2 linked regions of the Homo sapiens genome follow. The protein of the gene in region 2 interacts with the protein of the main gene of each other region in a pairwise test. Each region holds a gene or a part of one and is shown on either strand. Other genes may lie near its edges.

Region 1 (4,726 bases), on a different chromosome or scaffold from region 2:
GGATTACAGGCACCTGCCACCACGCCCAGTTAATTTTTGTATTTTTAGTAGGGATGGGGCTTTACCATGTTGGCCAGGATGGTCTCGAACTCCTGTCCTCAGGTGATCTGCCCGCCTCGGCCTCCCAAAGTGCTGGGATCACAGCCGTGAGCACCGTGCCCAGCCAAGTGTGCATGTTTTCAATCTCTCCCTGTTCTGATGCTCAGAGTTGACAACTACACAAACACTGCAACTGGCTTTGCTTTTTGTCCTGATGGTATCTCACAAGGCTTCCCTAATGCAGGCAGTCTTGTTTTCTAGACAATCTACCAACCCTAGCCCACAACACCCTTCTGGTGCCATAATAAGGGAACACTTTGTAAATTAAATGTGAGTGAAATCAAAAAGGTTTCCTGCAAGGTTGTTTTCTGAGACTTGGGAAATAATAAAATTCTGTACTGGAAATTCACAAAGGAAAGGGCCTATTTTTCTAAAACTGTTCTAACAGCTGACAGCAATTTTAAGCCACAGCAGGTTGGTCCAGTTCCCTGTATAATATCATGAGAGATTCATACTCCTATGCGAAAACCTAGCAATGGTACTAAATCATTTATTTTGCATGAAACATCTTGAATTTTCAGAATATGAACTTTCAAAGACGGCCATTTATCAAAATGCTAAATGTCACTTTTTTGAAAATCATCCGAACAGTATGGTACTTGCTCAAAGTCCTCAGAAGTTAAGGTCAGCAGATCTAGCTCTCGAGCACCCCAGAGACTAGATAAGAGAGAAAGGAAAAATCAATCCATCAGAACTAGCTGTAATTCTTTCATAGATCCTGACCACTCCTTATTCTTCATTTTCATTTCACCACCACTTCTGTCTAACTTTATCTTTTCAAAGGGCTGGAAGGCTGCCATAGATCACAGCCCAGCAACTTTGGTTTTTAATTTTAAATGTCAGTCAGAAAAAGAAGAAAGGCAGTCGGCATTTTGAGTGAGAATGGAAGTGCATTTGTTCAAGAATGCTGACCTGGCTGTGCAGACTGCCTTCTGGTATTAGGGCTCTGGACATTCTCCTTGAATTCACTTTTCTATCCCATTTTTATTTCAATTCAGCAAACTCTTGGGCTATGGATATAAAGATAGAAAAGATACAATTTATTCTGACCAGATTAGTGTTCTTCCTCTAAGGACTCAGAGGAGTGTGATTAGGTCATAACCTCTTTTTGCCACGTACTCAAGATGATCATTTAAAATAGATGGAAGAAAATCAAATTCCTACTGCCAAATTAAATCTGAATACTAGCTCCTTACAAATGCCCTTCTGGCTGGGCGCAGTGGCTTATGCCTGTAATCCCAGCACTTTGGGAGGCTAAGGCAGGTGGCTCATTTGAGGTCAAGAGTTGGAGACCAGGCCAGGAGTAGTGGCTCACACCTGTAATCCCAGCACTTTGGGAGGCCAAGGCAGGTGGATCATCTGAGGTCAGGAGTTCGAAAACAGCCTGACCAACATGGTGAAACCCCATCTCCACTAAAAATACAAAAATTAGTCGGGCATGGTGGCACATGCCTGTAATCCCAACTACTGGGGAGGCTGAGGCAGGAGAATCACTTGAACCCAGGAGGCAGAGGTTACAGTGAGCCAAGATTTTACCACTGCACTCCAGCCCTGGCAACAGAGTGAGACTCTGTCTCAAAAAAAAAAAAAAGAAAAGAAAAGAAAATGCCCTTCTGTACAGATGCCAGTAACTACAAAATTGCTTCTTGATCCTGTTAAATAACATGTCCTTAGAACTATGTGAGGAAGATGATAAATTCCTATCAGCTTGAACCGAAGTTCCAGATTGGAAAGAAAACTATTCCAAACCCCATGATCATCAGTAAGTTTTATTCAACCATTAGACTCACGCTGCGTTGAAAGACAATCCCCCTCCACTCATTTCCACTGTAACTTCACTTTGGGGTTCTGCTGTTGGGCCTCTACTTGCCTCTTTCCTTCTTCTCCCTCCCCTTGATCCTGTCATCTCTGAAGTCCCTCTCTCTCTCCCAGTCATTGTCGGGCCACACCCTGGTCGGCTCTCTTTCTTGCCATCTCTTCTCCCGGCCCCTGTCATGGTCTCGATCCCTTGTCCTCGAGTCCCAGTGTCTTTCTCGGGATCGAGATCGCTCCCGCCTTTCCCGTTTTCCCTCTCTATAGAGGTCGTTTTTAACAACTGGCAAGTTAATAGGTTTTCGAAAAGGCCGGTCCCGTCCCCCAAATCTCAGTTGCCCAGACTCCTTTTTTCCCCCAAGACCGCCTCCAAGTCGCCGAGGGATCCACCCTTTGAGAGTCCTTTCCAGCTCGTAGTCCACAAATATCTCATGCTGGTCAATAACCAGGCCATCAGCATCTCGGTAAGCTTTGATCACGGCACGCTCCTCCTTGTATTCGATGAAGGCGTAGCCCTTTGAAAAACCTGTGACCAAGTCCCTGACCAGCCGAAGCCGCCGGATGTCACCATAGCGGGAAAAGACTTCCTTTAATTTGTCCTCCTTGGTCTGCAAGTTTAGTCTGGCCACAAACAGGGTGAGGAGGGGATCTCCTATGACACCTTTGTTGGGGACATATCGTGCCAGCATTGCCCTCCAGACCGCGCGGTCGTGTGGGTCTTCATCGGTGCCATCAATGCTGCCCGCTTTGAGTGGATCATACTCCTTGGCGATGGGCATCCAATCGTTCATGTTCTATGAATGATAAGAGCAAGCGTGGATGGAGCCTCTACTCTGAGCCACTCATTCAACCCTTACAACAATGCCATGAAAAGGATACTATCATTCACCTCTTCTTAAAAACAGGAAAGGAAGGGAACACCCACAGAGGCTAAGTCCTCCCTGCTAGTAAGTGGGGGAGACAGCACCAAAGCCAGGCAGTTGTGCTCCAGAGAAGCCCTTACCCACTCCTACAAATGCCCTCTCAGGAAGCAGAGGGCAGCGTGCTCGGGTTTCACCCATATATGCAGCATCTGGCTCAGCCACGGAAGGGCACTTACCAACTATGAACACATTACAATGTGGCAACGTGGATCAAAACCAGACTTCTCTTTCAGAACCTTTAAAATGATCATAGGAAAACTAGCCCAGGAACTGCTGGTGGAAAATGGCAATTTAAAAACTCTACTACCAAGAATATCAAATACCAACATAGAGAATCATATAATAACCCTCCACAAACTTCTCACCCGGCTCAACTAGAACCACCATGCACATGTGGCCAGAATAATCTGCCCCCAGATAATTCTGAAACAAATTCTAGATATCACATCATTCGTGTGGAAATTTTTTTACTATGCATCATTAAAAGATATAGACTTTTTTAAAACTACAAGAGAAAACAGGGATTTGGATGCACCATTCTGTAGTAAACAGACAACAAAGCTAAGGCTACAGTGACCCAGCAGCGGGAGCGGGTTATTTGTCTCAAAAGGAACATGGGATTTCTTCTCAGATCCCTAGCTGATAATCCGTTTAGACTGGGAGCATGAGAATTTACTGCAATGGTAATTTTTTGTCCAGCAAGCACACTGCAGTTGTCATGCCTTCTGATACATAGTTAATTCATGTGAATCTTTGCTGGAATAATAAAATGCTTACTAATATTTCAGACCCAGCTAATGCTTATGTGACCAACCTGCAACGCTGTAGAGCCAATGCTGAAATATGTTACTTAAAAACCTTGGCTGAGGCCAGACGCGGTGGCTCACGCCTGTAATCCCAGCACTTTGGGAGGCCGAGGCGGGCGGATCATGAGATCAGGAGATCGAGACCATCCTGGCTAACACGGTGAAACGCTCTCTCTACTAAAAAATACAAAAAAAATTAGCCGGGCATGATGGCGGGCGCCTGTAGTCCCAGCTACTCAGGAGGCTGAGGCAGGAGAATGACTTGAACCCGGGAGGCGGAGCTTGCAGTGAGCAGAGTTCGCGCCACTGCACTCCAGCCTGGGCGACAGAGCAAGACTCCATCTCAAAAAAAAAAAAAAAAACCTTGGCTGGCTGGGTGCAGTGACTAACGCCTATAATCCCAGCACTTTAGGAGGCTGAGGCAGGTGGATCACCTGAGGTCAGGAGTTCGAGACCAGCCTGACCAACATAGAGAAACCCCATCTCAACTAAAAATACAAAATTAGCGGGGCGTGGTTGTAGGCGCCTGTAATCCCAGGTACTCAAGAGGCTGAGGCAGGAGAATCACTTGAACTAGGTTGGTGGAGGTTGCGGTGAGCCGAGACCACGCCATTGCACTCCAGCCTGAGCAATAAGAGCAAAATTCCGTCTCCAAAAAAAAAAAAAAAAAAATTAGCCAGGCGAGGTAGGTGGGCGCCTTAATCCCAGCTACTCAGGAGGTTGAGGCAGGAGAGTGGCTTGAACCCAGGAGGCGAGGTTGCAGTGAGCCGAGATTACACCACTGCACTCCAGCCTGGGCAACAAAGCGAGGCTCTGTCTCAAAAAAAAAAATAAAAAATAAAAACCAAACCAGGTCTTTCCTGGAAGAAGTCCCAAAAGTTAAGAAAAAAAACAAAACAAAACTGGCGAGCGCGGTAGCTCACGCCTGTAATCTCAGCACTTTGGGAGGCCAAGGTGGGCAGATCACGAGGTCAGGAGTTCAAGACCAGTCTGGCCAAGGAGTTTGAGACCAGTCTGGCCAATATGGTGAAACCCCGTCTCTACTAAAAATACAAAAATCAGCTGGGCACAGTTGCACACGCCTGT
Region 2 (5,077 bases):
ACACCAAAGCAAATATTTCTGACCTGGCTGGTATGTAATTTACTATGATAAAACTTATTTTTACATGCCAGTAAGGAAAACAAGCACAAGACAAGAACATGCATGCAGCTAAGCTAAAGGTTGAAAGAAGATTAGAAATGCATAATTCCCTCCACTCACTTGTGATATCATAAACAACAACTGCCACAGTGGAGTCACGAATGTAGCTAGGAATCAAGCTCCTGAACCGCTCTTGACCTGCTGTGTCCCATAATTGCAATCGTACCTAACAACAAAATCAGTCAAACAAGCAAGAAAAATAAGAAAGGTCAACCCGTTGCAATATACCTACTTGTGATATCGTAAACTACTACAGCTGCAGCAGAATCACGGATGTAACTGGGAATGAGGCTACGGAAACGTTCCTGACCCGCAGTATCCCACAGCTGAAGCCTGATCTGTGAGATGGGAAAAAATAAATAAAAAAAAAAAAACCAAACTAATACTAAAAAGAAAAAAGAAACAATGTTTTTTGTAAAAGGGAGAGGGTGGGAAGGAAGTAGAAAGAAGACTCATGCAAGAGGTTGCAGGGAGTGAGGAATGAAAATAACACAAAACTCCTTTTTCAAAAGGGAGAAATATTAAAAATTTGCATACTCCAAACATAAATGACTGGAAAATGCCACTGGGAAAAATTTCACAGAATCAGAAATATGGCTTCCCTTTTTCCCTACCTAAAACCTGTTTGAATCCCTATGCCTTTCAAGTGGCAAAAAGTAGACTGTTGATGGTTAAATAGAGAAAAAAACAAAACAAAACAAAAAAACCTAAGGTAAATGTCAATGAGCAGCCTAAGCTATCAGAGTAAAGGAATTAATGCTTCTTTGAAAGCTTCTCTCAAGCTAAAATGTGTCTCTTTCCTATTGGGTCTAGAATACTTTCAAACCTGTTTTTTAACTACCGTGCTTGTATTTCTCCCATACATTTTCCCCAGAACATGCGAGTGTGTGCGCGCACGCATGCACGCGTGTGTGTGTATAATGTAACAAAAAGGAGGAAGATCTTTTTGCAGCCCTACATAAAAATGTCTTTACGTACTATCCATATCTATATTACAGGAAGAAAAGCCTGAAAACAAGTATCAAGTTCTTGCATCATGATAAAGTCGTTTCCAAGCTTTCAAATTTTTTTTTTTTTTTTTAGACAGACTCTCATTCTTGTCGCTCAGGCTGAAGTGCAGTGGTGTGATCTCGGCTCACTGCAACCTCTGCCTCCCGGGTTCAAACGATTCTCCTGCCTCAGCCTCCCGAGTAGCTGGGATTACAGGCGCCCGCCACCACGCCCAGCTAATTTTTGTATTTTTAGAAAAGATGGGGTTTCGCCATGTTGGCCAGGCTGGTCTTCAACTCCTGACCTCAGGTGATCTGTCCATCCTGGCCTCCCAAAGTGCTGGGATTACAGGCGTGAGCCACCACACCTGGCCGCTTTCAAATTTTAAGAAATGACATGCTATATATCAAAACATAAAAGAGAATATTCAGGAAAAAAAAAACACCTAAGAAATAACACTGGAAATTAAATAATGTTTTTGGGTGCAGGTCTCAAAGTACTGCATTTAAGATATTCACTGTTTAGGTGACAAGTATCTCTTCAAGGGGTAGTGGGCTAGAATACAGATTTTACACTGTATTTAAAGAAAACATTCCAAAGGATGAAAGACAAAAATCCAACAAATAAATACACATTACTTTTTTTTTTTTTTTTTGCAACGGAGTTTCGCTCTTGTTGCCCAGGCTAGAGTGCAATGGCGCAATCTCAGCTCACTGCAACCTCTGCATCCTGGATTCAAGCGATTCTCCTGCCTCAGCCTCCCAAGTAGCTGGGATTATAGGCGCCCGCCACCACGCCTGGCTAATTTTTTGTATTTTTAATAGAGATGGGGTTTCATCATGTTGGCCAAGCTGGTCTCAAACTCCTGACCTCAGATGATCCACCTGCCTCAGCCTCCCAAAGTGCTGGGATTACAGGTGTGAGCCACCGCACCCTGCCCACATAACTTCTTTTTTGTCAGTCACTTTGATACGCATCCTATCCTGACAAAAAAAATCTTGAAGTTCACAAATTGAAATCTTTTTGAATGCCTCAAGGGTGGCATTTAGAAGGTCTTTAGCAGGTTTAATTTCTTCATAAAAATTCTCCTTTAATTCTCTGTAAAGCTCTTTGTTTTCATTTTTCCAAATCAAGATGACTGCCAAGTACTACTCACTCGGTAATAAGAGTTTTTCTCAACAACTGTAAACTATCTTTGGTAACTTTGCTAAGTACTTCTTATGGTGACAATCATTGATAACTTTGATTGCAGTTTTCTAACCTGGAATGTTGCAGAAAATTGCACACTGAAAATATTACTCACTGTTCGATCCTCCAAGTACATAGTTTTTGATAAAAAGTCAATGCCAATTGTTGCCTGTAAAACAAAACAAAGAAGTTAACAAATAATAAGTTTAATGGTGGCCAGCAGTTTAGGATTCAAATGGGATTCATGATTGTGGAAGAAATAATGAATAAACAAATCAATACAACATAGTCAATTAAGGACAATTAAGGACAAACAAAATTTCCAGTGATAATGATTTTCATGTATTCAGCACTTGCTTCATATCAGAGATTGTTTTAAGCCTTTTACATGATCATCTCTAATCTTTATACATTCCTGCCAGGTAGCTTATTCTCATCCCTACTTTTCTCATTTTACAAATAACAAGACAATGGCAACTTTGGTTTAAATATTTGTATTTGAACTTTAGTTTGAGTATCTGATTGTTCTCCACTCAGAATGGTAAGTATCTGCCCCAAGAGCAGTTTTATAAAATACTGTTGATATATTGTCAACTGTCCTAATGCCATAGACAGCCAGAGACTCACAAACATCATAACTTTCCATAAGAGACATGATTTTTCCAATATAAAATAAAAGTCATTAGGTAAGGAAAACAAGTTTTCCTCTGTACCACACAATGATAGCTTCCTTCTGTGGTGAAAACAAATGTAAAGTTCTATTGCCTGGCTGCTGTTTTCCCTATCAAGAGAAAATGGTGAAATAATAAGAGAATAGAAAGAAGGCAGACTACAAAAAAGAAAGGAAAAAAAGTATACAAGTTAAAAAACAGTCCAGTATTAATTAGGGGAGATAAATAAAAAGAATGGAAGAAAGACAGACTCCAGAAAGAGGATGTTGATATGGACTCTATTTTAGAAGTTTTACCACCTCATTAATGTTTGTGTGCACATATACTATGTATATATGTGCGTGTACATACATACTTTTTCCCTAAATATCTTTGTGCCATATTCCTTAAAACAGAAACTGAGTCTGTGCATTTTAAAATATGAGTCACTAAGAATTTTAAGTTCCTAAAAAACAATCAAAAACTAGATCAGAAAAGTGGTCCATCAGTTGGGGATTTTATTTCTGTTAGCAGAAAAATAGAATTTTGTGTGTGTCATAGTTGAGTTCTCACGAGATCTGATGGTTTTATAAAAGGATTTCCCCTCTCTTTGCTCTGTGCTTCTCCTTGTTGCTGCCATGTGAAGAAGGACATGTTTGCTTCCCCTTCTGCCATGATTGTAAGTTTCCTGAGGCCTCCCCAGCCATGTGGAACTTGAGTCTATTAAACCTCTTTCCTTTATAAATTACCCAGTCTTGGGTTATCTCTTTATTAGCAGCATGAGAACAAACTAATACATGTGTCTCCTTTAATTTCTCCCAGCAGTGTTTTGTATAGTCTTATGCTGTTTGTTAAATTTGTTCCTAAGTATTTTATTCTTTTCTGATGCTTCCGTAAATAAAATTCAAATATATATGTGTGTGTGTATATATATATATATATATATATATATATATATATATATTTTTTTTTTTTTTTTTTTTTTTTGAGACAGTCTCACACTCTTGCCCAAGCTGGTATATAGGGGTGTGATTTTGTCTCAGTGCAGCCTCAACCTCCTGGCTCAAGCAATCCTCTCGAGTAGCTGGGACTACAGGTGCATGCCACCATGCCCCACTAATTTCTGTATTTTTTTATAGAGACAGGGTTTTGCCATGTTGTCCAGGCTAGTCTGGAACCCCTAGGTTCAAGAGATCTTCCCCACTTGGCCTTCCAACACGCTGGGACTATAGGCATGAGCCACTACACCCTGCCTAAAGATAATATCTTTATATGAAAAATCAATGCAATGTTGATAAGTCTTTACATGTTTTTACATATATTCAAGAATGAAAGCTACAGTAAATTACATAAATTGATTATCTACTAAGTGCCGATTTATACACATTGCCCCATTTAGTTCTCATTTATTCGTTCATCGATTATTTATTTATTTATTTATTTAGAGACAGAGTCTCGCTCAGTCGCCCAGGCTGGAGTGCAGTGGCGTGATCTCGGCTCACCGCAATTTCTGCCTCCTGGGTTCAAGCAATTTTAGTGCCTCAGCCTCTCAAGTAGCTGGGATTACAGGCATTCACCACCAAGCCCAGCTACTTTTTGTATTTTTAGTAGAGATGGGGTTTTGTCATGTTGGACAGGCTGGTCTCGAACTCCTGGCCTCAAGTGATTCCCCCCGACCTCGGCCTCCCAAAGTGCCAGGATTATAGGCATGAGCCAATGTGCCCAGCTTGCTCATCAAATATTTATTAAGCACGTACTTGCAAGTACTGTGTAAGGTACTAGAGTGATGAACAAACATGCAGTTAGTCTCTACCCAAATTGGACGGAACACATTTAAAAATCATGTACACCTGTCCACATTCATCAGGAATATTTATTGAACTCTATTCCTTCCAAATACTGGGGGGGAAAAAAAGAAAGATTTATTTTACTTATTTTATTTTATTTTATTTATTTATTTTGAGAGACAGAGTCTTGCTCTGTCACCCAGGCTGGAGTGCAGTGGGGTGATCTTGGCTCACTGCAACCTCCGCCTCCTAGGTTCAAGCAATTGTCCTGCCTCAGCTTCCCAAGCAGCTGAGACTACAGGTGTGCACCACCACACTCAGTTAATTTTTGTATTTTTTAGTAGAGACGGGGTTTCACTATAT

The links.
Region 1: the proteins of RAB6A (region 2) and SNRNP35 interact in binary tests that used the Homo sapiens proteins (3 or more experiments, as listed by UniProt).

What each region holds. Positions count from the first base shown.
Region 1 is NC_000012.12:123,463,517-123,468,242, reverse strand, and holds the end of SNRNP35 (U11/U12 small nuclear ribonucleoprotein 35 kDa protein), read right to left. Parts: intron 2,706-4,726; coding exon of another isoform or gene 2,703-2,705; coding exon 1,962-2,702; 3' UTR 1,307-1,961; downstream 1-1,306.
Region 2 is NC_000011.10:73,718,454-73,723,530, forward strand, and holds part of RAB6A (ras-related protein Rab-6A), read right to left. Parts: intron 2,447-5,077; coding exon 2,393-2,446; intron 438-2,392; coding exon of another isoform or gene 332-437; intron 266-331; coding exon 160-265; intron 1-159. UniProt on the Homo sapiens protein: The small GTPases Rab are key regulators of intracellular membrane trafficking, from the formation of transport vesicles to their fusion with membranes.